Regions from separate parts of the Homo sapiens genome. Here region 1 is linked to region 2. Evidence: fine-mapped expression QTL. A gene starts in region 2. The other region holds a variant in brackets. All regions are shown on one strand. Distances are from middle to middle. Region 1 overlaps ZNF350 (zinc finger protein 350). Region 2 holds the start of ZNF350 (zinc finger protein 350).

Region 1 (15,768 bases), 24 kb after region 2:
GTGATTGCCTCCAGAAAACCTTCTGTCGGCAGGAGCAATGGTGAGTTTGCTCACATCCTGCATTCATGATAAACAGTTTGCTGTTTGATCATATAGCCTCCAGTGGAATGCTGAGTTGGTCACGTCCCACGGACCTTTGGCTCCCTGTAAGTGGGAACTACATAAAGGTGTGAACACTGGGAGGGTGGAGTTCATTGAGCCATCAAATCTGCCTGCCATAGATCTGTCATATAGTAAACTATTTTTGAGTGTGGATTGAGGTAAGACTTTCACTTTACTTTTTTCCAAATAGATAGCTATCTCACATAAATAATTTAGAATGGGTAAACCAACCAGGATTAAGTACTTGTATCATCTACCAAGTGTGTTCACTGGCCTCTGTAATAAAATGAGTATAGAGTGTACCTTCTGCTGTTCCCTGGGTCTTCAATGACTCAATTTCCCACCAGCAGTATCCTTTAAAGCCATCCTGCATCCTGAGACAAGAGATTGACAATTCATTGATAAGTAGTCTTAATTGTCACTATTACAGGGCTGTAGGTCCTTTGCCAGCCATGCCTTTCAGTCCTAAATGGTCTTCAAGGTTGGGCTGTGTTGTCCAAGAGCTGAGGACCTTACATTTATTGTTCCAATATTTATTGGCTATAATGATTTCTGTGGAGCAGTCAGCTGTCAGAAAATTTTGTCTCCTTTGTAGGTAACCTGTCATTGGTCTTTGGATTTTTTTATAGTCTCCCTTTGTATCTGGTGTAATTTAGTTTCAATCTGTTGTGCCTACGTGTAGACTTCTTGCTTGAAAAGTTGTTGGATTTCTTGAGTTTGAATTTTGGAGTGTTTAATCAGTTCTGAAAAATTTTCAGTGTTAGATCTTTGGATATTGTTTCTCCATTACTTGATTTTCTCCTTCTTCTTGAGAAATTATCAAACTCAAGGAGGTCATAGGAACCCTCAGTTTATAATTAGTCCATCAGAAAAATAGGAGGCCTGGATTTGTGATATATGGTTGGCCCTCCATATCCATGGCTTCCACATCCATGGATTCAACCAACTGAGGATTGAAAATATATATTTTTTAAGCATCTGAACTGAGCACATACAGACTTTTTTATTGTCATGATTCCCTAAACAATATAGTATAACAACTGTTAACATACCATTTACATTGTATTAGATATTATAAGTAATCTAAAGATAATTTAAAGTATATGGGGCTGGGCACGGTGGCTCACTCCTGTAACTCCAGCACTTTGGGAGGCTGAGGTGGGTGGATCGTCTAAGGTCAGGAGTTTGAGAACAGCCTGGCCAACATAGTGAAACCCCATCTCTACTAAAAATACAAAAAATTAGCTGGTTGTGGTGGCGGGCACCTGTAATCCTAGCTACTCGGGAGGCTGAGGCAGGAGAATCGCTTGAACCTGGGAGGCGGAGGTTGCAGTGAGCCAAGATTGTACCATTGCACTCCAGCCTGGGAAAGAGGAGCAAAACTCCGTCTCAAAAAAAAAAAAAAAAAAATTAGCCAGGCGTAGTGTCACATGCCTGTAGTCCTAGCTACTTGGGAGGCTGGGGCAGAAGAATTGCCTGCTCCTGGGAGGCGGAGGTTGCAGTGAGCTGAGATTATGCCACTGCACCCCAGCCTGGGAAAGAGAGTGAGTCTCCATTTCAAAAAAACAGAAATGTATATGGGAGGATGTGCATGGGTTACATGCAAATCTGCAAGTACTATTCCATTTTATTTTATTTTATTAGAGACAGTCTTGCTCTGTTGCTTAGGCTGCAGTGCAGTAGCATGGTCATAACTCAGTGTAGTCTCTAACTCCTAGGCTCAAATGAGCCTCCTGCCTCAGCCTCCCAAGTAGCTGGGACCACAGGCACTCACCACTGTGCCTAGCTAATTTTTTAATTTTTTGTACAGATGGGGTCTCATGTTGCCCAGGCTGGTCTTGAACTCCTGGGCTCGAGTGACCCTCCTGCCTTGGCCTCCGAAAGTGCTGGGATTACAGGTGTGATCTACTGTGCCTGACCAATACTGTGCCATTTTATATCAGACACCTCAGTATCCTCAGGAGGTCCTGGAACCAATACCCTACAGATACTAAAGGATGGCTGTATATATGTCTTTCATTTGCATGTATCTAAAATAAATATATGTACATATATTCATATATATTTACATATATAAAATGTATAAATATATTGTTTTTAGGTTAGCAAGATTTAACTTCTACACTTTATAGAAACTTCCAATTGGGTGAATGGAGGATGACTGAATATACAGTTACAGAATATTATATTAGGACTTTACTTCTTCCACATTGTATTAAAAAAAAAACTATTTGGTATATGCACACAGCCTGTAGAGTGGAAATGAGCAGAAAAACTTTAGCATTTCTTCCACATCATCAAAAAGACATCACTTTATTAAACAGGACTGTTATTACAGGAATCCATAACACTGGAGGATGTGGCTGTGGACTTCACTTGGGAGGAGTGGCAACTCCTGGGCGCTGCTCAGAAGGACCTGTACCGGGATGTGATGTTGGAGAACTACAGCAACCTGGTGGCAGTGGGTGAGGACAGCTGCCCTGTGTCACTCAGAGGGTGCCTAGTCAGTGGCCTTCCTTTCTCAGATGCCTACCTCTTTGGAATGCCTGCAGTACTCTGAAGTGGTAGATTCTCAGATCCTTCTCTTGCTCCCACACAAGACGGTGTAATCTACCCTCTTGTAAGAGAAAAACCTTGATGTTACAGATATGAAACGAAACTTTCATAGTTTCAGATAAGAAACTAAATTTTGGGTATTTTAAGAAACTCAAGTTTCTTGAAATGTAACATTCTTCCTTCTTGACATTGCCAGCCCAATTTGATATGTCTAAGTCCTCTATCATTTTCCATGAACAGGGTATCAAGCCAGCAAACCGGATGCACTCTTCAAGTTGGAACAAGGAGAACAACTGTGGACAATTGAAGATGGAATCCACAGTGGAGCCTGTTCAGGTGAGAGAACCCACAAGACAGAAGGCTATGGAAGTCACATTCTAGACAGTCAGAGAAGGCAGCACAGCTGTGAAGGGGGTTTGAGGATATGTAAACAGTTCCTCTACTCATCTGTCTCCCAGTGTGAGACCAGTTTTTCTTTGTAGGAATTTAGAGTTAAAAAAAAACAAAACAAAACAAAAACTCTTTATCTCCTCAGAGATCTGATTATTTTATCTACATATTGTTTGTTTGCCTGCATAATTTTCTTCTTCCTCGGGTTTCAAGTATTTCCCTTCTTCATGTTGTTCCACCTCTCTTGTTACGAAATTCCACCTTCCAGGCCTCTTTCCAAAGAGGAAACTTTGAAGTCCTCACTGTTTTCGGACTCCCACCCCTTTGTGCCCCTTGGCTAATGCTGACCTCCCCTCCTAACACCTCCCCTGTGATGGATGTGGCTTCCTCAGGGTAAACTGGACTTTCGCTGTGCCTTGGCTTCCTTCGCTTCTCTTTTTCCTTATTCTTAGGTTCTCCAAAGGTCCCGTTCTCCATTTTCTCATCTGTGCCCTTCACTCTTCAAAATTGCCTTCATTCTAGTAAGTTTAAACTCCTTCCGCTCCCTGGAGGAGAGTCCCAAACTGACATCTCCCTGTTGTTATCTAACACAGATTTTAGTTCTGTGTAATTTACTTCATGGCAACTCTCCCCTGAGTTCCTAGTAACTGCAAGGAACTAGAATCATCTTTCCTCCAAGAAAACCATTAAGTTTGGATTTTCGTTTGTTCCTGTACATCCTGAATCTTGGCCATCTGGGTATTACCTGCCTGAAGAGCTCTCTTCTTTAAAGGTCTCTGCTAGTCATGATGCATCTCTAAGTAAAAAAGTCATTTTTTTAACATCCTACATTCTCAACTCCCGCCTACTTCCATTTGGTTCCTTTCTGTATTTAATAATTTGCTTTCGTTTTTTTCCCCATCGTATTCTGATGACACCAAGTCCCAGTAAACCATGTTACCTGTCAAATTTCTCATTTCAGTGATCTCTGTGATATAATACCATCTTGCTCACAAAGAGATTTCCATCCTCTTTCCTAAACCCTGCCTGGTGTGTTCCACACATATGATTACTTCCCTGACTCATTCCCTTAAAAATTATTCATTATTATTATTTATTTTTATTAATTTATTTTTTTTTTAAGACAGAGTCTTGCTCTGTGCCCAGGCTGGAGCGCAATGGTGTGAACTTGGCTCACCGCAACCTCCACCTCCTGGATTCAAGCGATTCTTGTGCCTATCCCCAACACCAGCACCATACCTGGCACACGGTGATCATTCAGTAAGAGTATGTGGAATGAATGAATCTGTTCTTTGGACGAAATGGGCCTCCAGCCTCTGGTCTGCTGGTCACAGTGAATTGCTTGTATTTTAAGGTCTGTTTTGCAAGGCACATTTAGAAAGCAGCCAAATCTGTCTTTATTATTAGTGATCTAACCTTGTTTTATGCTAACTGCTTTCACCTTTTAGTTTGTTTATACTATTACTTTTTGCCAATGTGCAAGGAACATTAAACATGGAGTTTTATTTACACTCAGGTCATAGGGTTATTACTAAGAGACACCTCACATCAAGGCATTAAAAAAAAGAATACTTTGGGGCCGGGTGCAGCGGCTCACACCTGTAATCCCAGAACTTTGGGAGACTGAAGCGGGCAGATCACCTGAGGTCGGGAGTTCGAGATCAGCCTGGCTAACATGGTGAAACGCCGTCTCTACTAAATATACAGAATTAGCTGGGTGCGGTGGTGCATGCCTGTAATCCCAGCTACTCGGGAGGCTGAGGCAGGAGAATCGCTTGAACTCAGGAGGTGGAGGTTGCAGTGAGCCGGGATCATGTCACTGCACTCCAGCCTGGGCTACAGAGTGAGACTCCGTCCCCAAAAAACAAAAAAAAAACAACAAAAAATACTTTGGCTGTGAGCCGGGATTGTACCACTGCACTCCAGCCTGGGCGACAGAGTGAGACTCCGTCTCCCAAAAACAAAACAAAACAAAAAATACTTTGGCTGAGCACAATGGCTCACCTGAGGTCAGGAGTTCGAGACCAGCCTGGCCAACATGGTGAGACCCCGTCTGTAGTAAAACTACAAAAATTAGCCGGGCATGGTAGCAGGCACCTGTAATCCCAGCAACTTGGGAGGCTGAGGCAGGAGAATCCCTTGAACCCGGGAAGCAGAGGTTGCAGTGAGCTGAGATCGCAGCATTGCACTCCAGCCTGGACAACGGAGTAAAACTCCATCTTAAAAAAAAAAACAAAAAAAACAAAAAAACCACAACAAACTTTTACCCCAAATCTAAATGATAGAAATCTTTGTTCTTTTCTTTCTAGACATATGGAAAGTTGATCATGTGCTGGAGCGCTTGCAGAGTGAAAGCCTGGTGAACAGAAGGAAACCATGTCATGAACATGATGCATTTGAAAATATTGTTCATTGCAGCAAAAGTCAGTTTCTGTTAGGGCAAAATCATGATATATTTGACTTACGTGGAAAAAGTTTGAAATCCAATTTAACTTTAGTTAACCAGAGCAAAGGCTATGAAATAAAGAACTCTGTTGAGTTTACTGGAAATGGGGACTCCTTTCTTCATGCTAACCATGAACGACTTCATACTGCAATTAAATTCCCTGCAAGTCAAAAACTCATCAGCACTAAGTCCCAATTCATCAGTCCCAAGCATCAGAAAACACGAAAATTAGAGAAGCATCATGTGTGCAGTGAATGTGGGAAAGCCTTCATCAAGAAGTCTTGGCTAACTGATCACCAGGTAATGCATACAGGAGAGAAACCCCACAGATGTAGTCTATGTGAGAAAGCCTTCTCCAGAAAGTTCATGCTTACTGAACATCAGCGAACTCATACAGGAGAAAAACCTTATGAATGCCCTGAATGTGGCAAAGCCTTTCTCAAGAAATCACGGCTCAACATACATCAGAAAACACATACCGGAGAGAAACCCTATATATGCAGTGAATGTGGAAAAGGCTTCATCCAGAAAGGAAATCTCATTGTACACCAGCGAATTCATACAGGTGAGAAACCTTATATATGCAATGAATGTGGAAAAGGCTTCATTCAGAAGACGTGTCTCATAGCACATCAGAGATTTCACACAGGAAAGACGCCCTTTGTGTGCAGTGAATGTGGAAAATCCTGTTCTCAGAAATCAGGTCTCATTAAACATCAAAGAATTCACACAGGAGAGAAACCCTTTGAATGTAGTGAATGTGGGAAAGCCTTTAGCACAAAGCAAAAGCTCATTGTCCATCAAAGGACTCATACAGGAGAGAGACCCTATGGCTGTAACGAGTGTGGGAAAGCGTTTGCGTATATGTCGTGTCTGGTTAAGCATAAGAGAATACACACAAGGGAGAAACAAGAGGCAGCCAAGGTGGAAAATCCTCCTGCAGAGAGGCACAGCTCATTACACACCAGTGATGTCATGCAGGAGAAAAACTCTGCTAACGGGGCGACTACACAAGTGCCTTCTGTGGCCCCTCAGACATCATTAAACATCAGCGGCCTCCTCGCAAACAGGAACGTAGTCCTTGTGGGACAGCCAGTGGTCAGATGTGCAGCCTCAGGAGATAACAGAGGATTTGCACAGGACAGAAACCTTGTGAATGCAGTGAATGTGGTTGTGCCTTCCGTGATCAATTATGTCTTATTTTATGTTACAGAAAACCCATAGGAAGAAAACTCAGATCTATGTGGAAAAGGGTTGAGCAAAAATTTGTAGTTCATTATGTGGCCGAAAAGCATACACTGAGAGAACATGTATAAGGCTGAGATAGCCTGATAAACTCATCCTATTAAAATGTATGCTGTGATACACAGGCAAATTTGATGTTAACCTAAGCACATACACAGCAATTGCTCGACTGTGTCAATTAAATGAGTAAAGGAAGCCCAAGTACTTTTAAGTGGAGGAAATGAAGTACTGTGAATTTTTAAAACAGATGAGATAATTGGTGT[C/T]GGGAGTGTTGCAGTGACTGAAAAGCTTCATAAGGGGCAGTTGGTGGGAAAGGGCTAATACTGTAATGGTGGAATGTGGGACACATATGTGTCAATTCAGTTTCCTTAGACCAGTGCCAGTGTGGAGGATTAATTGAAAACCAGGACCATAAACTTTCAGAACTTTGTATTATGCAGAGGGATCTGTGAAACTAGTCAATTTGTTTCATTAAACAAATATTTTAAAATTATTTCCTTTGTACCTTGTCCTGTTCCAGGAGCTGAGGTCAAAGAAGAAAAAGTTTGTGGTCTCCTGGAGAGTTTGTGGGGTTAATTTTAAGTGGTATCATTACACTCAGGCAATCTAGTCAGGCGGTGCAAATATCTACATTAGGTGAAATGGACATGGAGTAACTGTGTCCAGGGGACGCGATAATTTATTGTTCAAGGAGTAGCAGAAGGACTGCTGTTAATGGTACTTAAGCACCTTAGTACAAAAAGGAGGGCTTTTTGTTTGTTTGTTTTTGCCCGTGTCTTATCTCTCCAAGAGATTACAAATTCCCTGCTAAGTTTTGTAGCTACTTAAATTTTAGAATTAAAGAAACTGAACACAAAATTTAAAAATTCAGTTCCCTCACTGCTCAAGAGCTGTATATGTGAGTAGAGGCTACTAAACTGGACAGCAGAGTGAACAGAACTTTCAGACAATGAGGACTCTTTGTCATTATTTCCAACATCCCAGAAAGTTATGCTGGAGAGGCTGCTTTGCATGATCTAATATTTCCCAACACATAGAAAAACAAAAACTAATTATGTATTGATTTGGAGAGAGAATGATTTGGAAAGAGAAGCGTATTTTGTCATTGAAGGGAATGACAGTTGTAAAGAATAGAATTGTCACTCACAACTTTTGTGTGATTAGAAAGACTTAGCCAAATATAAAAGGGGCAGAGCAGAAAAGGAAAAGGACTCTTAGAATAAGTAGAACACAAAGGAGGAGGAAAATCTTAGTCTCTGAGAATGGATGAGACTGTAACAGATGGGAGGAGGTGGGTTTCTTTTGGGACGTCTTAGAGATGACGCTTTTATTTGTCCATAAGACCTATCACCCGCTAGGGTTACCATTTCAGAGATCCCAGCTTCTCTGTGACCTGCTGAACTGAGATGTGATTTTTCTTTTCTTTTTTTTTTTTTTGAGACATGATTTATCTTCATCATTCTCACTTTTCTGGGAGTAGGTCTCTTGGCCTTCTTTATCTGGTTTTTTAACCTTCATCCCATATGGATACACTGTCCAAGTTACAGTAAGTGCTGCTCATAGGAAAATAAATGGAAATTTGCCTTGTGGCTAGGTCAGAATTCAACAGAAATCCTGGGTTACTAGGTAACCTTTTTTTTGAGATGGAGCCTTGCTCTGTCGCCCAGGATGGAATGCAGTGGCACGAACTCAGCTCACTGCAAACTTTGCCTCCCGGGATCAAGCGATTCTCCTGCCTTAGCCTCCCGAGTAGCTGGGATTACAGGTGCCTGCCACCACGCCCAGCTAATTTTTTGTATTTGTAGTAGAGATGGACTTTCACCATGTTTGCCAGGCTGGTCTCAAACTCCTGACCTCGTGATTCACCCACTTCGGCCTCCCAAATGCTGGGATTACAGGCATGAGCCACTGCGCCTGGCCACTAAGTAACTTTTATATATCATCACTGTGCAAGGCACTGTTTTAGATACAGTAGGATGGATCGGTGAACAATACAGGCAAAGGAATAACCTTTATAAACTTTACCATTGAGTGAGGCAGAGAAACAGATTGTACGATGTTAGGAAGGAGAAAAAGACTAGTAGTGGATACTAATGCATACGTAGTGATGGGGGCTTTTAAAAATATGTTATTTTTTTTCTCCAAGGGAAGGCTTTTCTGGATGTAATTTGAGCCAAGACCTAAGTGTACTGAGGAGAGCCTGTTACAGCATTTGTAAGCACAGAATACTCCAGGAGTATTTGTAATTGTCTGTGAGCTTCTTGCCGCAAGTCTCTCAGAAATTTAAAAAGATGCAAATCCCTGAGTCACCCCTAGACTTCCTAAACCAGATCCTCTGGGGCTGGAACCTGGCACTCTGCATTTGTAATGAGGGCTTTCTGGTGCACACCTAATTTTGTGCATCTTTGCCCTAAATCCTGGATTAGTGCCCCATCATTACCCCCACATTATAATGGGATAGATTCAGAGCAGATACTCTCCAGCAAAGAATCAGAAATGGGCGCTCCACCAACCAGGCCCTATCCACATCTGGCCTTTGTGAATCTGCACATCCTTCCATGGTAAGGTCAGGTTGCTTATGCTCTATCAGGGTCTAAGGATGAGTTGGCCAGGCCTACCCTGAGCAATTGCTTAACGTACCTTTCAGAGCTTGACCTCCCAGATGAAGGAGGCTCAGTGCATACCTAAGCTTGGTACACATCATGTCTGCTCCCAAACCCAAGATCCTTATAGTTTCACTGAAGATCACCCTTCATCTGCTCCCATGACCTCAGTCCCTCCTGGGCCAAGAGGCAGTCCTGCATAGTGATTTGGAATGTATCCTGAAGTCACACTGCTTAGTTTGAATCCTGCCCTGCCATGCCCAAGCCATGTGCCATAGAGCAACTAATTTACCAAGGTCTTGACTTTAGCTTTAAAATATCTGCCTCAGGTTTGTTGTGAGAAGTAAATGTAAAGTCCTTAAAACAGTGTCTAGCAAGAAACACAATTAATACAAGTAATGTTATTAGTCCCAGTGAGGGGAAGAGGAGGAATCAAGAGTATAGGTGTGCCTGAACTTAATCAAAACTGTGACTTGATGACAAAAAGGTTGCCACGCACTGAGCCAAGGATTCCTCATATAGCATACTTTTTAAGCTTAATAGAGCTGTGATTATGAAACTCTCTAGCTTTAAACTTTGAAACTTGCAATGACTGTTCTGCTTGGGGTCTGGACAATGGCAAACATCCTTAAAATGGCCATCAAGTCTGCATGTTCCGGTTCTTTCTTCCCTCTCCCATACTCCACCTTGCTCTCCCTGTTCTGACACACTGGCCCTCTTTTGGCCCCTCATATGCTGCTGACATCCTTTCATCACCTTCAGGCCTCTGTGCATGCTCTTTCTTCTGCCTGAACTTTTCTTTCCCCCCATTTTCTGCATTTTTCCTCCTTCAGGATCTTCAAACATCACTAATTCAGAGCAACTTTCCCTCACCAGTCTGGCCTTCCATAGGATCGTGTTCCTCTTCTTCCTAGCACTTAGGGGAACTGCAGTTTAACATTTTGTAGATTTCCATGTGCATTCCCCATCTGGATTCTAAACTTCCTGAAGGCAGAGAGTGTGGGGAAAAGAAAGAGAGATCAGACTGTTACTGTGTCTATGAAGAAAGTAGACATAAGGAACTCCATTTTGTTCTGTACTAAGAAATTCTTCTGCCTTGAGATGCTGTTAATCTGTAACCCTAGCCCCAACCTTGTGCTCACAGAAACATGTGCTGTGTTGACTCAAGGTTTAATGGATTTAGGGCTGTGCAGGATGTGCTTTGTTAAAATGTGTTTGCAGGCAGTATGCTTGGTAAAAGTCATCACCATTCCCCAGTCTCGAGTACCCAGGGACACAATGCACTGCGGAAGGCCACAGGGACCTCTGCCCTAGAAAGCCTGGGTATTGTCCAAGGTTTCTCCCCACTGAGACAGCCTGAGATATGGCCTCTTGGGAAGGGAAAGACTTGACCCTCCCCCAGCCCGACACCCATAAAGGGTTTGGGCCCTGGAGGATTAGTAAAACAGGAAGGCCTCTTTGCAGTTGAGATAAGAGGAAGCCATCTGTCTCCTGCTCGTCCTTGGGAATGGAATGTCTCAGTGTAAAACCCAATCGTAAATTTTGTTTACTGAGATAGGAGAAAACCGCCTTATGGCCGGAGGTGAGACATGCTGGGGGCAATACTGATCTTTACTGCACTGAGATGTTTGTGTAAAGTCAAACATAAATCTGGCCTATGTGCACAACAAGGCACACACAGCACCTTTCCTTAAACTTATTTATGACACAGAGTCCTTTGCTCACATGTTTTCCTGCTGACCCTCTCCCCACCATCACCCTATAGTCCTGCCATATCCCCCTCACCGAGATGGTAGAGATAGTGATCAATAAATACTGAGGGAACTCAGAGACCAGTGCTGGTGTGGGTCCTCTGTATGCTGAGCGCCGGTCCCCTGGGCCCACTGTTCTTTCTCTATACTTTGTCTCTGTGTCTTCTTTCTTTTCTCAGTCTCTCATCCCACCTGATGAGAAATATCCACAGGGGTGGAAGGGCTGGCCCCCTTCAAGAGAGCAGGTCTGTTTTTTCCTCATCATTTCACCTCCAACATTGGGCACTAGATCAGGCACCTCGCAGATGCTGAGACAGTATTTGGTTGAATTAAGGAGTGTTGCTCCAACAGCTTTCAAGCTACTTAGCTGCCAAGTGGCAGGCTGTAGATTCAAATGTTTTCTGGCATCTAAAACTTTTTTTTTTTTTTTTTGCTTGGAGGGTTTGTTTTATTTTATGATCTCATCCTTAGATTACCCTGTGATCAGCCTCCACTCCTAGGGCGATAGAGACTCTACTGGCTGTTTATTTTTACTCTGAAATAGTTTGACTAGGTCACATAGTCATGCGATTCAAAACTTAAAGCTGTACAAAAAAGCACATTTGTGAATATCTTATCCTGTTCTCAATCCTAGTTTTCCCCTGACCTTCTAGCTTTTACAGGTAAACATGTTTACTGTGAATCCGTCCAGTGTTTCTTTTTATAATACAAGTATATATTATTTATTTGTCCTTTTTTCAAAAGGTGGCATACAGCATACACTCTTTTGCATCTTTTCTATGTTTTGTTTGTGACGGAGTCTTGCTCTGTTGCCAGGCTGGAGTGCAGTGGTGCGATCTCAGCTCACTGCAACCTCCGCCTCCCAGGTTCAAGTGATTCTCCTGCCTCAGACTCCTGAGTAGCTGGGACTACAGGCACGTGCCACCACAGCCAACTATTTTGTATTTTTCATAGAGATGGGGTTTCACCATGTTGGCCAGGATGGTCTCTATCTCCTGACCTCGTGATACACCGCCTCGGCCTCCCAAAGTGCTGGGACTACAGGTGTGAGGCACCGCGCCCAGCTGCATCTTTTCTATGTTTAATTATCACTGAGCAGCAGCACAGCACCTTGAGGGTAAGTGAAGAAGGAAAGACTGTAGCCTGTCAGCCAAATATGGTTATTTGTTCAATAGTCTTATTATTGAAGTGCTGTGTTCCAGTTTTTGTTCTGAGCACTGGGGCTAAAAATAAATTATAGACTTCTGCCTTTGTGGAACTCACAGTCCATTCTGAACAGCAGTTAAGTGAGCAGATGATGATGATCAGGAAAAATGATCTTCAATTATTCCCGGAAGAGAGATGCTTCCTCTATTTCCCTATTGAATGCCTTCTATAGTTCCCTTCCTTAGCCCCACTTAAGAGTTGCAATTTTATATTTAATGATTGCATTATTATAAATAAGACAAAACTGAGAGGCATCCCAGAATGCTGTCTGAAGAAGTGACATTTCAAATGATTCATGAAAGGACAAGTATAGTAACTAATATTCCCTCATGTTTTCCTGTGTGCCAAACACTTCACAAGAAGGGAAAGTACTTGCAAATTCCTGGTAGCGTATAAGACCACAAGATACCTCAGAAGGGGCGGAATAAGAATCAAATGTACAGCATAGAGTAATGGAACCTGAGAATGGAGAATCTGGTGTTTGCTTGTGTACAGCTGAAGGGGGCCAGCCCCTCCACACCTGTGGGTGTTTCTCGTCAGGTAGGATGAGAGACTGAGAAAAGAAATAAGACACAGAGACAAAGTATAGAGAAAGAACAGTGGGCCCAGAGGACCAGCACTCAGCGTATGGAGGACCCACGCCAGCACTGGTCTCTGAGTTTCTTCAGTATTTATTGATCACTATCTTTACAATCTCGGTGAGGGGGATGTGGCAGGACTATAGGGTAATGGTGGGGAGAGGGTCAGCAGGAAAACACGTGAGCAAAGGACTCTGTGTCATAAATAAGTTTAAGGAAAGGTGCTGTGTGTGCCTTGATGTGCACGTAGGCCAGATTTATGTTTGACTTTACACAAGCATCTCAGTGCAGTAAAGAGCAGTATTGCCCCCAGCATATCTCACCTCCAGCCATAAGGCAGTTTTCTCCTATCTCAGTAAATAGAATGTATGATCAAGTTTTACACTGAGATATTCCATTCCCAGGGATGAGCAGGAGACAGATGCCTTCCTCTTATCTCAACTGCAAAGAGATCTTCCTCTTTCACGAATCCTCCTCAGCCCAGACCCTTTATGGGTGTCAGGCTGGGGGATGGCCAGGTCTTTCCCTTCCCATGAGGCCATATCTCAGGCTGTCTCAGTGGAGAGAAACCTTGGACAATACCCAGGCTTTCTAGGGCAGAGGTCCCTGTGGCCTTCTGCAATGCATTGTGTCCCTGGGTACTTGAGACTGGAGAATGGCGATGACTTTTACCAAGCATACTACCTTCAAACACATTTTTAACAAAGCACGTCCTGCACAGCCCTAAATCCATTAAACCTTGAGTCAACACAGCACATGTCTCTGCAAGCACAAGGTTGGGGCTAGGGTTACAGATTAACAGCATCTCAAGGCAGAAGAATTTTTCTTAGTACGGAATAAAATGGAGTTTGTTACGTCTTTTTCTTTCTACATAGATATAGTAATAGTCTGATCTCTCTTGCTTTCCCCCACACTACTGGCTTCACATGGAAAGACAAACAATGGACATGGATGATTGTGCCTCAGGAATATACTCAGAGTCCAACTTATTTCTCAGAAATATTGAAACCAAATGTCTTATATGCTGCATTTTTGAAAACTATACTTTAATACAATATGTGGATGATTTCCTTCTTTGTTCAGAAGATGAGAAAGCTGCTACAAAAAGATGGGATTCACTTGTTACAAAAATTGCTTTCAAAGAGACATGGGGTCTCCAATAAAAAATCTTGAGTTCTGTCTACAATGAGTAAAATATTTAGAGTTATCTATTGTCCAAGAAAAGCCTTTTTATTGATGCAAATAGAATAAAACAAATATTTTCCTTGCTTACCCTAAAAACTAAGAAAACACCTAAGAGGATTTCTGGAACTGGAAAATTATTGCAGAAATTAGATTCTGAATTTTTCATTAAAAGCTTACCTTTCTATACCCTTTTAAAATGAGACAAGCAGACTCTCTGGATTGGACAGAGAAAAATCAATTAATGTTAGGAACAATTTAAAGGATCTTATAGATGCCCCAGTACTAGGAAATCCAAATTATTTTGTTTACGTTGTTTGTACAGGAAGATCAAGAAAATACCCTAGGCATTATGACCCAAAAACATGGGGCTCAAAAGAGACCTATATAATACAACAGTCAGCAGTTGGATTCAGTGGCTAGAGGACTACCAGCCTGCATGGGGTTAATACAGCAATCACCCTACTGGTAAACCTCCTGGGCTCAAGCAATCTTCCCACCTCAGCCTCCTACCTAGGTGGGACTTCAGGTGCATGCCAACATGCCTGGCTAAGTTTTAAATTTTTTTTCTGGAGGCAGGGGTGTCTCCTTATGTTTCCCAGGCTGGTCTCAAATTCCCGAGCTCAAGAGAGCCTCTTGCCTCAGCCTCGCAATGTGCTAGGATTATAGGCATAAGCAACCACACCCAGCCTGGAAGCACTTCTAAATTCACTCCATACTCAGAAATATTTAGTTAGCAGGCTGGTCCCTTTAGAAGTCCTACTTCTTTCTTCACCTCATATGAAACTGCCCCTAAATTTGAATGAAATGCCTCGTGATTGCATAATCTTTTTTTTTTTTTTTTTTTTTTTTGAGACAGGGTCTGGCTCTATTGCCCAGGCTGGACTGCAGTGGTGTGATTTTGGCTCACTGCAACCTCCGCCTCCTGGGCTCAAGCCATCCTCCCACCTCAGCCTCTGAGTAGCAGGGACTATAGGTGCCTGCCACCACCCCTGACTAATTTTTGTATTTTAAGTAGAGATGGGGTTTCACCATGTTGCCCAGGCTGGTCTTGAACTTCTGAGTTCAAGGAATCTACCCACCTTGGCCTCCCAAAGTGCTAGAATTACAGGCATGAGCCAGCATGCCAGCCTGGAAGCACTTCTAAATTCACTTCATGCTCAGAATTACTTAGTTAGCAAGCTAGTCCCTTTAGAAGTCTTACTTCTTTCTGGACCTCATATGACAATGTCTACATGTAATAACCTAAATTCTGCTACTCTTCTCCCCCTAAATTTGGATGAAATGCCTCATGATTGCATAACCTTAACTGGTCAGCTTTTCTCTCCTAGGACAAACCTGCAAGAAACTCATCTTAGTAACACTGGTGTGGTTTGATTTACAGACAGATCTTACTTAAAGATTAATCTCAAATTTACAAGCAGGTTATGTTATAATATCCCAAGGGAAAAAATAGAAAGTGCTTATCTTCTAGAAGCAATCTCTGCTGAACAAGCCAAATTGACAGCACTAATTAGAGCTTGTCAGTTGGCAAAATGAACAACTGCTAATTTATATACAGGCAACAGATATACCTTTGAAGTCATTCGTGACTTTGTAATACTGTGAAAATAAATAAAGAGGGTCTTGAACCTCTTCCGGCCAGTCCATAAAAAATGGATACCTTATCTCTTTATTATTAAAAAAACATTATTATAAAACTCACTACC
Region 2 (15,768 bases):
ACAGCCTTTGTCATTTGGGATCAACCTGTGTGGTCTGATATTTCTCTTTATTTCTGTGGTCTGGTATCCTGCCAAATTTTGGGGTTCCCTGCAAAAAGTGACCTGTTTATATTTGACTATGTGTGTATTGTATAAAGACCTATTTAGAAAGCAGCCAAATCTATATACATTGTGAATTATCTAGCCTTGTTTGTACAGTTGCTTTTACTTTTCGGTGTGTTTATATTATTGTGTTTTATTTGTAAGAAATGAAGGATATTTATACATGGAATTTCCTTTATGTGTAAGAGATAAAAGGAATCTTACACATCTCTCCCAATGTGTAAGAGATGAGGGATATTTATACATGGAGTTTCCTTTATACTAAAATAGGGTTTTCAACCCCCTTTAGCTGTAATTTTCCACTACCTACCCAAATGCTATAAAACTGCCCTCCCCTTATCACCCTTTTCTGACTCCTTTTTCGGACTCAGTCCGCCTGCACCCAGGTGATTAAAAAGCTTTATTGCTCACAAAAAAATAAATAAATAAAATAGGGTTTTCACTAAAGAGTCACCTCACACCAAGGCAGTTTTAAAAAATAGTTTAAATAGTTTATTTCAAAACAAGATGATGGAGTGATTGACTGTTCTCTTCTTTCCTAGAAATCAGGAAAATTGATGATCCTCTGCAGCATCACTTGCAAAATCAAAGTATTCAGAAGAGTGTGAAACAGTGCCATGAACAGAATATGTTTGGAAATATTGTTAATCAGAACAAAGGTCATTTCCTGCTGAAGCAAGATTGTGATACGTTTGACTTACATGAAAAACCTTTAAAATCAAATTTAAGTTTTGAAAACCAGAAAAGGAGCTCTGGCCTAAAGAACTCTGCTGAGTTTAATAGAGATGGGAAATCCCTTTTTCATGCTAACCATAAACAATTTTATACTGAAATGAAGTTTCCTGCAATTGCAAAACCTATTAATAAGTCCCAGTTCATTAAGCAACAGAGAACTCACAACATAGAGAATGCCCATGTATGCAGTGAATGTGGGAAAGCCTTCCTCAAGTTGTCTCAGTTTATTGATCATCAGAGAGTTCACACTGGAGAAAAACCTCATGTATGCAGTATGTGTGGGAAAGCTTTCTCCAGAAAATCCAGACTAATGGACCATCAGAGAACTCATACAGAACTGAAACATTATGAATGCACTGAATGTGACAAAACCTTCCTCAAGAAATCACAGCTCAATATACATCAGAAAACTCATATGGGAGGGAAACCTTACACATGTAGCCAATGTGGGAAAGCCTTCATCAAGAAGTGTCGGCTCATTTATCATCAACGAACTCATACAGGAGAGAAACCCCATGGATGCAGTGTATGTGGGAAGGCCTTCTCTACAAAGTTCAGTCTCACTACACATCAGAAAACTCATACAGGAGAAAAACCTTATATATGTAGTGAATGTGGAAAAGGCTTCATTGAGAAGAGGCGTCTTACTGCACATCATCGAACTCATACTGGTGAGAAACCCTTTATATGCAATAAATGTGGGAAAGGCTTCACCTTGAAGAACAGTCTTATCACACATCAGCAAACTCATACAGGAGAGAAATTATATACATGTAGTGAATGTGGAAAAGGCTTTTCAATGAAGCACTGTCTCATGGTACATCAACGAACTCATACTGGAGAGAAACCTTATAAATGCAATGAGTGTGGAAAGGGCTTCGCTTTGAAGAGCCCACTCATCAGACATCAGCGAACACATACTGGAGAGAAACCCTATGTATGCACCGAATGTCGAAAAGGTTTCACCATGAAGAGTGACCTCATTGTACATCAGCGAACTCATACTGCAGAGAAGCCATATATATGCAATGATTGTGGAAAAGGCTTCACTGTGAAGAGCCGCCTTATTGTGCATCAGCGAACTCATACTGGAGAAAAACCCTATGTATGTGGTGAGTGTGGAAAAGGCTTTCCAGCAAAGATCCGGCTAATGGGACATCAACGAACTCATACAGGAGAGAAACCTTATATTTGCAATGAGTGTGGAAAAGGCTTCACTGAGAAGAGTCATCTCAATGTACATCGGCGCACTCATACAGGAGAGAAACCCTATGTATGCAGTGAATGTGGCAAAGGCTTAACTGGGAAAAGCATGCTCATTGCACATCAGCGAACTCATACTGGGGAGAAACCTTATATATGCAATGAATGTGGAAAGGGCTTCACCATGAAGAGTACTCTCAGTATACATCAGCAAACTCATACTGGAGAGAAGCCATACAAATGCAATGAATGTGATAAAACCTTCAGGAAGAAGACATGCCTCATACAACATCAGCGATTTCACACAGGAAAGACTTCCTTTGCATGTACTGAATGTGGAAAATTCTCTTTGCGCAAAAATGATCTTATTACACATCAGAGAATTCACACAGGAGAGAAACCGTACAAATGCAGTGACTGCGGGAAAGCCTTCACTACAAAATCAGGGCTCAATGTTCATCAAAGAAAACATACAGGAGAGAGGCCCTATGGATGTAGTGATTGTGGGAAAGCTTTTGCGCACTTGTCTATCCTTGTTAAACACAGGAGAATTCACAGGTAGTCATTTTGGGAAAGCCTCTTGCCAGATGTAGGCCCTTAAGATATCTGCAAAGAAGAGTAATTTCATGAATGCAGACTACATGGTTGTTTATTTAGTGATCAGTTACTTCATGTTTTGTGTCAGAGAAAACATGTACAAAACATTTGAGAAAATATTTTAGGACATTATGTCTAAAAATTGTATACTGAGAAAAATCCTATGAATGTGGCAGACTATAAAAGCCTTTGGTGGGAAGATAAACCCCCTCAGAAGTGATCATAGATCATGAATAAACTACTAATTCGTGGAAATGTAATAATTATAGGAACGTCTTTGCCCAAAAATAAAACTTCAACAGATTGAGAGAGTTCACACTGGAGAAATACTTTCCTCTGGCAAACCCCTGTGGCAGGGTTTTCAGTAAAATGTTTTGCCTCATCGTGTGCTAGGAAATAATGCAGAAAAAACTTATGAAAACATTCAATGTAGAAGACTTTTAGGAAAATATCAGAGAATTTAATGAAGGAAAGAAGCCTTGGCAAAATGATGGATGAGAGCTTTCTGTCACAATTCTAACCTTAACAGATAATATGCCTCATGTGCATTTGGGAACAGGATAGCTTGAGCCATATTCCTAGTTGCCTTGTCACTGATTTTATACATTTTAAATTGTGACTTCCTCTAATCACGAACTAAAATTTAATATTGTATATAATACCGGAGTATTTTATGCCTGCCTCATTTTATTATATGATTAGCTCCTGCATTTCTTTGGTTCTAAGTTTGTGTTATTTCAGAATAACTAAAGTACTTCAGAATGAAACTGGATACAGTATATTCAGTTCATAAGTGTAATTGACCATACTTGAATATGTTTAAGTTTATAAGTAACATCAGGTGTTATGAAATTAATATAAATAAGATGTTTTTGTAAGTTTTTATTTTGAAATAAGTTTAGATTCACAAAATCTTACCAAAATATTCCAGAGTTCTTGCCCTTAACCCAGCTTCTTCCAAAGATAACAACTTACATAAGCATAGTTCATTACCAAATACAGGAAAGTGAAATTGTTACAATACTGTTAACTACAGAATTTATTTGGAAATCACCAGTTTTAACATGCATGCATTTTTGTTTGTTTTTTATATGTAGCTTTAAGAAATCTTAACACATATATTGATTCATGTCACCACCACCGTAATCGAGATTCAGAATGTTGCATCAATGCAAACTCCCTCATGCTCCTTGTTTATAGTCACAACCTCTCCTCAGCCCTAACCCTTGGCAATCAGAAATCTTTTCATCTTTAGTTTTGTCATTAGTAGCATGTTATAAAAATGGAATCATACAGCATGTACCCTTTTGGTATTGGCTATTTCAACTAAAGCAGATTAACCTGAAATCCATCCAAGTTGTTCTGCATATCATTGTTCTGTTTTTATTGGCCACTAATAATCTATGATACGAATATACCACTATTTGTTTATTCACCCACTGAAGGACATTAGTTTTGTTCCCGGTTTTTCTTACTGTTACAAATAAAAATCCTATGAACATTTGTACACACAGGCTTTGTGTGAGCACAATTTTTTACTTCTCTAGGATAATTACTGCAGAGTATGATTCATGGGTCATAAGGTAAGTGTATGTTTACCTTTGTAAGATACTAACCAGAGTGGTGTTTCATTGCTCACCAACAATATATAGAAAGGTTCAGTTGCTCCACATTCTTCCACTTGATGCTGTCAGTATTTTTTTTGTTTTGTATTGTTTTGTTTTGAGATGTAGTCTTGCTCTGTTGACCAGGCTAGAGTGCAGTGGCACGATCTTGGCTTGCTGCACCCTCTGCCTCCGGGGTTCAAGTGATTCTCCTGCTTCAGCCTCCTGAGTAGCTGGGATTACAGGTGCCTGCCACTGCGCCTGGCTAATTTTTGTATTTTTAGTAGTGACGGGGTTTCATCATCTTGGCCAGGCTGGTCTCGAACTCCTGACCTTGTGATCCACCCGCCTCAGCCTCCTGAAGTGCTGGGATTACAGGCGTGAGCCACCACGCAGGACTGGAATGTTTTATTTTACCTATTCTATTGTGTGTGTATTGGTATGAATACAAACATACCAATTGTATGTGGCCTTCCATTTGCACCTCCCTAAAGGCTTTTTTTTTTTTTTTTTTAAGAGACAAGGTCTCACTATGTTGCTCAGGCTGGAGTGCAGTGGCTATTCACAGGCACCATTATAGCACACTACAGTCTCAAACTCCTGGTCTTGAGAAGTTTTCTGTCCCAGCCTCCAGAGTAGCTGGGACTGCAGGCATTTGCCACTGTGCGCTGCTTAGAGCATTGTTTATTAATGCTGGATAAAGATTTTATCCAGCTGGATAAAGGTTTTATATCACTTGCAAATATTTTTCCATAGATGTGGTTCTTTCTTTTTTTCTCTCAGAGAAAAAGATTTTAATTATGATGAAGTCCAACTTTTTTTTTTGAGATGGAATCTTGCTGTCTTGCCCAGGCTGGAGTGCAATGGCATGATCTCGGCTCACTGCAACCTCTGCCTCCCAGGTTCAAGTGATTCTTCTGCCTCAGCCTCCCGAGTAGCTGGGATTACAGGCACCTGCCATCATGTCCCACTAATTTTTGTACTTTTGTAGAGATTGGGGTTTCACCGTGTTGGCCAAACTGGGCTCAAACTCCTGACCTCAGGTGATCTGTCCACCATGGCCTCCCAAAGTGCTGGGATTACAGGTGTGAGCCATTGCACCCAGCCTTTTTTTTTTTAATGGATTGTGGGGTTTTGGCATTACATCTAAGTATTCCTTCCTTACTGTAATTGATAATTCTTTTTCCACTTCCTTTGACAAAATAATGTAGTTTTGCTTCTTTTTTTTTTTTTTTTTTTTTTTTTTTTTGAGACAGAGTCTCACTCTCTCACCCAGGCTGGAGTTCAATGGCATGATCTTGGCTCACTGCAACCTCCGCCTCCTGGGTTTAGGTGATTCTCCTGCCTCAGCCTCCCAAGTAGCTAGGATTACAGGCACGCACCGGCATGCTCAGCTAATTTTTGTATTTTTAGTAGAGACGGGGTTTCACCATGTTGGCCAAGATGGTCTTGATCTCCTGACCTCGTGATCTGGCCACCTCAGCCTCCCAAAGTGCTGGGATTGCAGGCGTGAGACACCACGCCCAGCCAGTTTTGCTTTTTAATATTTAGCAATATCCATTTAAATTCATCTTTGTATATAGGGTAAGGGTTAATTTAAAGTTCAGCCTATGGTTGCCCAGTTGATTCAACAGTATTGAAAACACTGTCCTCTTTCCATTAAATTGATTTTGAACATTTGTAAAAATCAGTTGCCTGTTCTTGTGTCCATTTCTTGACTCTATTCTGTTGATGTGCGTGTCTATCACTCCACTAATAATCTACGGTCACTCCCATCAGAAATGACATAATATGCTCTATGAGGTAAAACAGCTATGTTACCTCATATAAAATGTTCAAAGCCAGAACCTGGACTTTGGGAAATGTCCCATATCCCTCTCCGGAAGCCCGCCTCCCAGTCTCTCGGTGTTCTTAGAGATGGCGAAGGATGGGGTTGCAGCACCAGAATTCCAGAATCGGAAGTAGGTTCTGATACGTGTTCAGCCTTTGGCAGCTGCTACTGTAGCCTTGAAAGCCTGATGCTGCGTGTGAATCCGGATGGGGAGCTTGTGGGGACGACCATGAAGTGGAAACGCATGTGAATGTCCGTGTTCAGGGGTTTTATTTCAGTTTAGTCACCGAGGAATATGGGTGTGAGAAAGAGACCCTTGGGATGTCAAAGGTTAAGGCTTAGTTTTAAGAGTTTAATGACTGAGGGTCCCACGGACAGAGCTTGAGGTCTATATGTTCACTTTTCATGAGTCTCAGTAATAGAAAACTGGGGAAAGTGTGTCTCAGTGAATGCTGTTTTTTGCTCAGATTTGCAATTTAATATGGGGCTCAGATACAGAGAAGCCCGAGCTAGGAAGAGGAGTGGCGTGAATGAAAGGTCTAGGGGGAGGAGTGTCAAAGGAGTGCCTCTGTGGTAAGTTTTAAATTGAATTTGAAGGCAATTTTATTTAGAGGAAGACGGGGCTTGTCTGTGTTTGAGAATGTAATGAGGCTGGAGGCTTTCAGGTGTGCAGTTGAAGGTTAGTGGTTGCTTTGAGACTAACTGGATGCTGGAAACACTTCCTGTCAGTCTTTCAAGTCCAAATCTGTCCTGAAGGTTTCTATTTAAAAACTTTTTCTTCCTAGGTCCACTATTCTCATTGTACCCATAAAAATCAGAGTAATTCAGGGTGACGAAGTGGTGTCTTTACCGAGGAGTCTTGCTCTGTCGCCCAGGCTGGGGTGCAGTGGCGCGATCTCGGCTTACTGCAACCTCCGCCTCCCGGATTCAAGCGATTCTCCTGCCTCAGGCTCCCGAGTAGCTGGGATTACAGGCGCGCGCCACCGCGTCCGGGTAATTTTTGTATTTTTAGTAGAGACTGGTTTCGCTTTGTTGGCCAGGCTGGTCTGGAACTCCTGACCTCAGATGATCCGCCTGCCTCGGCCTCCCAAAGTGCTGGGATTACAGGTGTGAGCCACCGTGCCCCACTTCACTTTCTTAAATGTTGTGTTTAGAAGCACAAACTTAAAAAAAAATCAAGTCCACTTTATTAATTTTATTTTGTTTTGTGGGTCATCCTTTACTCTCCTCTCAGAATTAACTCACGTCCATGAGGATTATCTCCCTTTTCCTTCTCTAAGTTTTATACTTTCTCTTAAACTTAGATCTATGATCTATTTTGAGTTAACTTTTGTGTATGGTTTGAGGGTCCTAACTCATTTTTCTGGATGTGGATATCCAATTATCCCAGTGCCGCTTGTTGAAAAGACTATTCTTATTGAATTGTCTTGGCACTTTTGTCAAAAACTCTTAACAATATTTTTATACTCTCAATTCTGGCTCTGCTCTTCCCATTGGCACCTTTACTAAAAGTGGCCTTTCTAGGAGGCCCAATTCCTTTAGTCTGTCGTGGCCAGGCTCACATCGTAATTCATTCTCAAAATCTCTTTTCTCTCCTCTCCTCTCCTCTTTTCTCTTCTTTTCTCCTCTTTTCTCTTCCTTCTCCTCCTCCTCTTCCTCCTTCTTCTTCTTCTTTTTTGTAAATAATAATCATTTTTTCGAGGCCAGGCGCGGTGGCTCACACCTGTAATCCCAGCACTTTGGGAGGCCGAGACAGGCAGATCACGAGGTCAGGAGGTCGAGATCATCTTGGCCAACATGGTGAAAGCCAGTCTCTACTAAAAATACAAAAATTAGCTGGGCGTGGTGGCGCGTGCCTGTAGTCCCAGCTACTTGGGAGGCTAAGGCAGGAGAATCGCTTGAACCAGGGAGGCAGAGGTTGCAGTGAGCCCAGATCTCGCCACTGCACTCCAGCCTGGCGACAGAGCAAGACTCCGTCTCAAAAAAAATTATAATTTTTTTCTTTCTTCACCACCCGCCCCCCCGAATACCTGCTATTTTTCTGTTCTTAAAAACCGCTTCCTGCAAGCTAATTTTCGCCAGACGCTTTCCCGTGGGTGTCTGCCTACCTGATGTGTTGCCTTTTCCCTTTCTACCTGATCTGTTACCTTTTCCATTTCCAATTCATTCTCTGGGATACCTACACCTGGCTGCACTGTTACTTGTCTTTTTCAAAACCTTTTTTTTTAAATTTAACAAAGTGGATGGAAAAGCGCTAAAGGCAATTTAGCTTGCCCCATATTTGCCTGATAAAGCCTGAGTCTCTGAAAATCTGCCCCCTTTCGCAAGACTTTAAGTGCCAGGAAACGAGGCGATTTCAGTGACTTCTCTTCTTCCCTGGCTCCTGGCTCAAAAACCTGCCACTGCCTTCTGTGCGTCCAATTTTCAAACATGGCTGCCGTCAGGAGCCACGGCTATGGGCGCGGCCATTTTACAGAGTAGGAAATGCCGTAAATGCGCTTGTCCTTGCTCTTTTAAACATTTTAGGTTCTCCTCGGCCGCCGTAGGTGGACCATAAACCCGTGCGAGGACTCCAGAAGTAGGAGCAGTTTACGGAAGTGTAACGTTGAGGCCCTTCTTGTGTATCTGGAGAAAATAGAGGTCAGTGTGTGGTTTTGTCCCTGAAAGTTTTTTGTCCTAGTTCAGGTTTTGTCTCAGTGGAAGGTTTGGGAGATCTGAGGACGTGGTGTACCCTGGACCACATAGTTTTTGGCAGGAAGACTGGGGAGCGCCGGGGTATAGGCATTTGGGAGGTACCTGGTGGGAGTCTGTGATCCCCCTGTCTGTGGTCCGCGTGCCTTTGGTGTGAGTACAGTGACTAAGGGTCTGTAGTGATCAACGGCCGTGTCCTAACTGTCAAGGTATGGATCACTCTGCTTGTAAAGGATGGAGGTGGCGATTAGGATCGATGCGGCGTCTGCTTCGGGTTCAGGATTTAATTTGGAACTCAGTGATGTTGGAGTCTGGGAGGATGTCCATCGCTGTAGAGTGTCTGGTCCGTGGTTCGGATGAGTAAGAGGCATGGGGCCAGTGTCTGTGGTACAAAGGCTTGTGAGGGCTGAAGCTTTCGAGACTTTGGAGCCCTGGGTCCTGGGTTGAGGTTCGAACCTCGGTTACTGGGGCAAAAGGCGACACAGCCCCCAGCATTAGTTCGAAACCATATATCTACTCTTCTGATCCTTGGGGTGGCTATTTACAGATCGGGGGGTCAAGTTCAGTCATACCCTCCGATTATATATTGTCTATGGCTGCAAAGGCAGCGGTTGAGTTGTTGTGACAGAGACCTCGTGGCCGGCAAAATCGAAAATGTTGCCAACCTCTGCATTCACTTCTTTTATTTTTTATTTATTTTTTTTATTTTTTGAGACGGAGTTTCACTTTTGTCTCCCAGACTGGAGTGCAATGGCGCGATCTCGGCTCACTGCAATCTCCGCCTCCCGGGTTCAAGCGATTCTCCTGCCTCAGCCTCCTGAGTAGCTGGGACTACAGGCCCACGCCACCACGCCCGGCTAGTTTTTGTATTTTTAGTAGAGACAGGGTTTTACCACGTTGGGCAGGTTGGTCTCGAACTCCTGACCTCAGGTGATCCGCCCACCTTGGCTTTCCAAAGTGCTGGGATTACAGGCGTGAGCCACCGCGCCCGGCCTTCACTTCTTAATATATAGTGAGTGTTGCTTGCCCGCCTTATATTCACACTTTCTTAACAGAATCTCCATTTCGTGAAGTATTCATCCCTGTGGCAAGGCGACCCAAATCCCAGTTTCTTAGTAAGGCCTTGTTGGTCTTAGCCAATCTTGCTGGTTCCAATTGCCATTGCTAGTGATAGGTTTGACATGGAAATGAGCTTAGGCGTATGGTGCAATTCTAGCCAACTATGTATGTGAAAATCTGCCTGGGAGTTTCTGAGGGAGCATTTTCTTTTTTAAATATGTAATTTCTTGAATCTCTTTTTCCATGTTCGTGATGATATCGCCTGAAAATAACATTAATTTTCTGTCTTACTTTGTAATGCTTATAATTCATTCTTATCTTAATGCATTGGCTCAACTTTCCAGTATAAAGTAGGAAAATAGGGTGTTAGTGGACGTTCTTGTTTTATTACCCACCTGTAAAATTCACCCGTTGTGTTGTCTGGAGTTAACACCTTTCCTGGAGGTAAACTGTTTGGTATGGTTGATCTCTTCCTTTACTTTGTTAATTTTTCTACATTTATATATTTTAAATGTACAATTTAATTATCATGGAGGCAATATATGTATAAGCAGTCATTGCCCAGGTCAAGAAATAGAATATGGTCAGCACACCAGTGGTGTTCTGTGAGTCTTTTTCCATTCTCACACCGAAAAGTATTTTAGGCTTTTCTTTATATAATTAATCATTATTTATCATTGTAGTTAATACAGTTTTGCCTATTTTAAACTCTGTATATCAGTGGAATTGTACATCACTCTTTTTTTGTGTCAGCCTTCTTTTGCTCATTATTGGTGAGGGTCTTTCCTGTTGCATCTGAGTATATTTTCTTTGCTCAATGACAAGGATCAGGCGAATTTACAGTAAATATTTTAGGGCTTGCAGGCTACATATGGTCTCTTGCATATGCTAATTTGCTTTTTGTTTTACAGTCTTTCAAAAATGTAAAAAGCATTCTTGCAGGCTGGACCAAAGGTATAATAGGTTTTCTATCACATTCCATTATGTAAAATATAGCAGTTTTTTCTATTATTAATTACATTTGTATTACCTAAAGCTTGTATTATTAAGAATAATGCATGTGTGAAAATTTGTGTAAATGTCTTTTGGTTCATATGTGCTCTCATATGGGGGAGGCAGAGATGTATATCTAGATGTGCACCTCGGAGGAAAATTGCTGCTTCATAGAGTGTGTATAAACTCCGTCTAAATAGATGTCAAACTGTTTTCTAAAGTGGTTGTACCACTTACAGTTCCCCTAGCAGGATATAGTTTGCTTTATAGGGTGCTTTATGTGGCCTCTTTAAAATATCTGGCCATACCCTAATAACATTGAGAGATTCTCCTATATTAATGTTCTTTAAAGCTTTATTGATATGTTTCTACCATTGAAATTGACAGTTGATTCTAAAATGGTTTTTGTGTATGTTGTGAGGGGGGTTTTAACTTTCTGTCCCCATCCCCAGTACCATTTATTGATTTTTTTTTTTTTTTTTAATTTTTTTAGATAGAGTCTTGCTCTCGTCGCCCAGGCTGGAGTGTAGTGGCGTGCTTGGCTCAACTGCAACCTCTGCCTTCTGGGCTCAAGTGATTCTTGTGCCACGGCCTCCCGAGTAGCTGGAATTACCAGCAGGTGCCACCTTGCCTGGCTAATTTTTGTATTTTTAGTAGAGATGGGGTTTCACCATGATGGCCAGGCTGGTCTCCAACTCTGGCTCAAGTGGTCCACCTGCCTGAAGGGGGCCTGCCCCTCCACACCTGTGGGTATTTTTTGCAAGGTGGAAATGAGAGACTGAGAAAAGAAATCAGACACAGAGAGAAAGTACAGAGGAAGAAAAGTGGGCCCAGGGGACTGGTGTTCAGCATATGGGGGACCCACACCGGCACTGGTCTCTGAGTTTTGTTAGTATTTATTGATTACTATTTTTACCATCTTGGTGAGGGGGGTGTGGCAGGACTATAGGGTAATGGTGGGGAGAGGGTCAGTAGGAAAACATGTGAGTAAAGGACTCTGTGTTATAAATAAGTTTAAGGAAAGGTCCTGTGCCTTGATGTGTACGTAGGCCAGATTTATGTTTGACTTTACACAGACATCTTAGTGTAGTAAAGAGTAGTATTGCCGCCAGTATGTCTCACCTTTAGTTATAAGGTGGTTTTCTCCTATCTTAGTAAATAGAATGTATGATTGGGTTTTATACCGGGACATTCCATTCCCAGGGAGGAGCAGGAGACAGATGGCTTTCTCTTATTTTAACTGTAAAGAGGTCTTCCTCTTTCACTAATCCTCCTCAGCACAGACCCTTTACGAGTGTTGGGCTGGGAGATGGTCAGGTTTTTCCCTTCCCACGAGACCATATCTCAGGCTGTATCAGTGGGAGGAAACCTTGGACAATACCCAGGCTTTCTTGGGCAGAGGTCCCTGCGGCCTTCCGCAGTGCATTGTGTCCCTGGGTACTTGAGACTGGAGAATGGTGATGACTTTTACCAAGCATACTGCCTGCAAACACATTTTAACAAAGCACGTCCTGCACAGCCCTAAATCCATTAAACCTTGAGCCAACACAGCACACGTTTCTGAGCACAGGGTTGGGGCTAGGGTTACAGATTAACAGTATCTCAAGACAGAGGAACTTTTCTTTGTACAGATTAAAATGGAGTTTCTTATGTCTTCCTCTTTCTATATAGACACAGTAACAGTCTGATCTCTCTTTCCCCCACACCTTCCTCAGCTTCCCAAAGTGCTAGGATTACAGGCGTGAGCCACGGCGCCCTTAGTTCCATTTATTGAAAAGACAGCTTTTATCTACTTCCCTGTAGTGCTATCATTGCCATTGAGTCTCTATATGTGCTTAATTCTGCTTATAAGGATTTTATTCTGTTCCTTTGTCCTATTTGCCTGTTATTGTACTAATATTGTGCTGTCCTAATTAAAGTAGCTTTATAAGTCCTCATAACTGATATGGCAAGTCTTCTAACTTTTTTTTCAAACTTTAAAAAAAAGTTTATAGCTATTTAAACTTTTCAGTATCAGTTTGGGATTGTGACTGTGATTTCATTGAATCTGTAGATTTGGGAGACTTGACATTTTTAAAATGCTTTGTTTTCCAGCCCATCTTTATAGTACATCTTTGCATTTATTTAAAACTGTTAAAATTTATCTCAGTAAATCTAATTTTAAAAATATATTCGAGTTCTTCTAAATGATATCGTTTATGTCAGCCTAAAAGAGGAAACTGCACAAAATACAATTTTAAAGAGTTTACTTGAGCCAAAATGAGGACAGCTGCCTGGGAAAATACTTTCAGGTTGCCTTGGTTAAGTGCTCTGTTAGGATTTTGTTAGAAACAGGTTTTAAAGTCAAAAGGGAACAAACCGTGAGCTGACATAAAGTTGTTTGGCAAGAATTCTCATTGGTTTACAGAAATAATATCAATTAACAATTGGCTGTACATTGTTAACTATGGGGTTTTATGAGTTAGGATGTCCAGTGAATGGCATTTTATGGCTACTCAGTGTGAGTTAGTCTAGAGCCTACATAGCAAGTGGCTTTAAGAGATAATTATTTAGCTTGAGGGGGAAATGAGATGTGACTATTGTCACATTAAATTTTTTTTTTAGTTTTTAATTTTTTCTTTTTTCTTTTTTTCAGGGGAACCCCTATCAGAAAGACTGCTGTCACATTTTAATGCCTCTCTAGACCTGATAATTTAAAGGGAGTCACATTCCTCAGATAAAAGATTCATTTCTTTCTCATTTATAAATTTTATTTTGTTTGTTGATGGTCTGTTCTGTCAGTTACTAGGAAAGGTCTGTTAAAGTCTTTAGTCTGAATTTTCTATTTCTTGTTTTTGGTTCTATTTTTTGCTGTATACATTTCAAGACTGTTGTTAGGGGTATACATATGGTGTATTTCTATGAATGAAGAGCCAAATTTCACCTCTTTTCAGTGAGCATTGTTTCTCTTTCTCTCTGTTAATTCTTTAGGATTTCTGGTCAGTTTTGTCTGAGATATAGTTATAACAGATTATCTTTGGTTACTCTCTCTGTGGCATATTGTCTCCAACCTTTTATTCTCAAGCTTCCCATATCATTTTGGTTCAGACATATCAACTATAATAACCGCATGTGGGGAGGCTGAGGCGGGTGTGTGATGAGATCCGGAGTTGAAGGCCAGCCTGACCAAGATGCTGAAATCCGATCTCTACTAAAAATACAAAAATCAGCCAGGCGCGGTGGCGGGCCGTAACCCACATGGACCCATGGGACTGCACAAATGGGGGTGAACGTGGGAATAAAGACAGGAGACAAAAGAGTATATTTGGGAGAAGGGGTCAGGGAGCACCTTACCTCTAGTGGACAAGGGCCCTGAGCTTTACACAGCCCTCCGTATTTATTAGGCAAAAGAGATAGGAGGGTGGGGGGGTGGAAGAAGGGGTCGGCTGCTCAGTTCAGAGTAGGCTTGCAAGACTGCATTCTCTAGATGTCGCAGTAGATAACCTCGGTGCCAGGGAGTGATTGCCTCCAGCAAACCTTATGTTGGCAGGAGCAGTCCTGAGTTTGCTCACATCCTGTATTCATGATAAACAGTTTGCTGTTTGATCATATAGCCTCCAGCAGAATGCTGAGTTGGTCACGTCCCACAGGCCTTTGGCTCCCTGCATATCCCCCTTTCTGTTTATGTATTAATTGAAAGAATGTAAGGCTGGGCTGGGAGGCTCTCATTCTCCAATTGGTGGTCCATCCGATTTTACAGACTATAAACCGAAGACAGAGACAAAACAACATTATTCCAAGAACTACATATAAGATGTTAATGTGGTGCCTTAGATAGGTCCAAGGGTTGAGGCTCTCCAGGCCTTCCTGGAATTCGGTCCAGTCTTCTAAAGAAGGCTGAAATTCTTGAGTTTGCCTATTTAAATCAATAATTTTGTTTTGTAATTCACCAATATCAAAGGTGATGTTGGATGTGAAAGCTCCTTGCAAATGGGCTTTCACAAGGTCCCACGGATACTCACTTTGGTTATATTCTGAGTTAGTTACGCAAATATGAATGTGATTAAAATGATGACGCAATTGCTGCTGCAACTGCAAGCTTTGTACCTGTTCTCCTAACCACAGAACCATGGATTTCAACATTGCCACTTCAGTTTGTAACTCAGTGTTAATTTTATTCTGAAGTAGCCTCGCTTGGTCAGCTGTGCGTGTCCAGTTCTCCACCTACTGAGATGTTTGAATAGAATTATGCAGAGTTACAGAAGATATCACAACAGAAGTTATTAGTTTGACCAAGGAAACAATAGCAAAAATTATGCCTAAGGCTCTATGGACACAGTGAGTAAGCTGAGTTAGAAGAAGTGTTACAAAAATGCAAAGCAGGTGTGGCAGCCCAAGGCTCAGACAGATTAACAAGAATCCATAGCCCAGGGATGCAACCCAACATTATCAAAGTAGAGATATTATGTGTTCGTAATGTGCTATGATTAATGCAGTGTGATATAACTGGCAAGATTTACAGGTCAATTGGGTATTGTTTACCTGAAGCTGGTTCTTCTTAGCTGCCAAAAAGGCATAAGGATTAAAAACACAAACTGTAAACTGAGTGGTGATATTCTTTACAAATGCAACATTAAGACTGTGTTGCTTACTATTGCTATTATTAGACAGTGTTCCAATCCAGATGTTGCCATTCATAAATGGGAGTGCTGCCTTCCATATAGTTTCTTGAATTGGTCCTTTCCTCCCCAGATAATGCAACTGAGGAAGAGGTGGGCTAAAGCCTGCTCCATGCCAAGCAATCTGAGCAGCAGACTGGGATTGGATTCTGCTGTTGTATAAAGAAGAAGCATTAAAAGCTTGCCGCCAATGCCAGTGAAGTTTGTGCCATGATTTCTGACTTTCACCTTTTCCATCTAATTGACCTTTAGGTTCCCAATCCACAGTGTCTTCAGTTGACATATATTGTTTACT

The links.
Region 1: its variant is fine-mapped to the expression of ZNF350 in whole blood (TOPMed, PIP above 0.99).

What each region holds. Positions count from the first base shown.
Region 1 is chr19:51,955,804-51,971,571 of GRCh38, reverse strand. ZNF350 (zinc finger protein 350) reads left to right here. Exons shown (of 5, transcript NM_021632.4): 3 at 2,441-2,567; 4 at 2,899-2,994; 5 at 5,358-7,232. The coding sequence ends at 6,718. All of the region lies in intron 1 of ZNF350-AS1 (ZNF350 antisense RNA 1), which reads right to left. Among named protein-coding and RNA genes, the nearest start is that of ZNF350-AS1, 15 kb to the right of the region's middle. The variant C/T (reference allele first, on the strand shown) is at 7,003.
Region 2 is chr19:51,979,714-51,995,481 of GRCh38, reverse strand. It overlaps ZNF350 (zinc finger protein 350), which reads left to right and starts at 8,642. Exons shown (of 5, transcript NM_021632.4): 1 at 8,642-8,712. ZNF615 (zinc finger protein 615) reads left to right here. Exons shown (of 7, transcript NM_001199324.2): 7 at 645-4,150. The coding sequence ends at 2,602. It overlaps ZNF350-AS1 (ZNF350 antisense RNA 1), which reads right to left. Exons shown (of 3, transcript NR_103847.1): 3 at 14,115-14,555. RefSeq lists enhancers at 8,476-8,715, 8,302-9,177.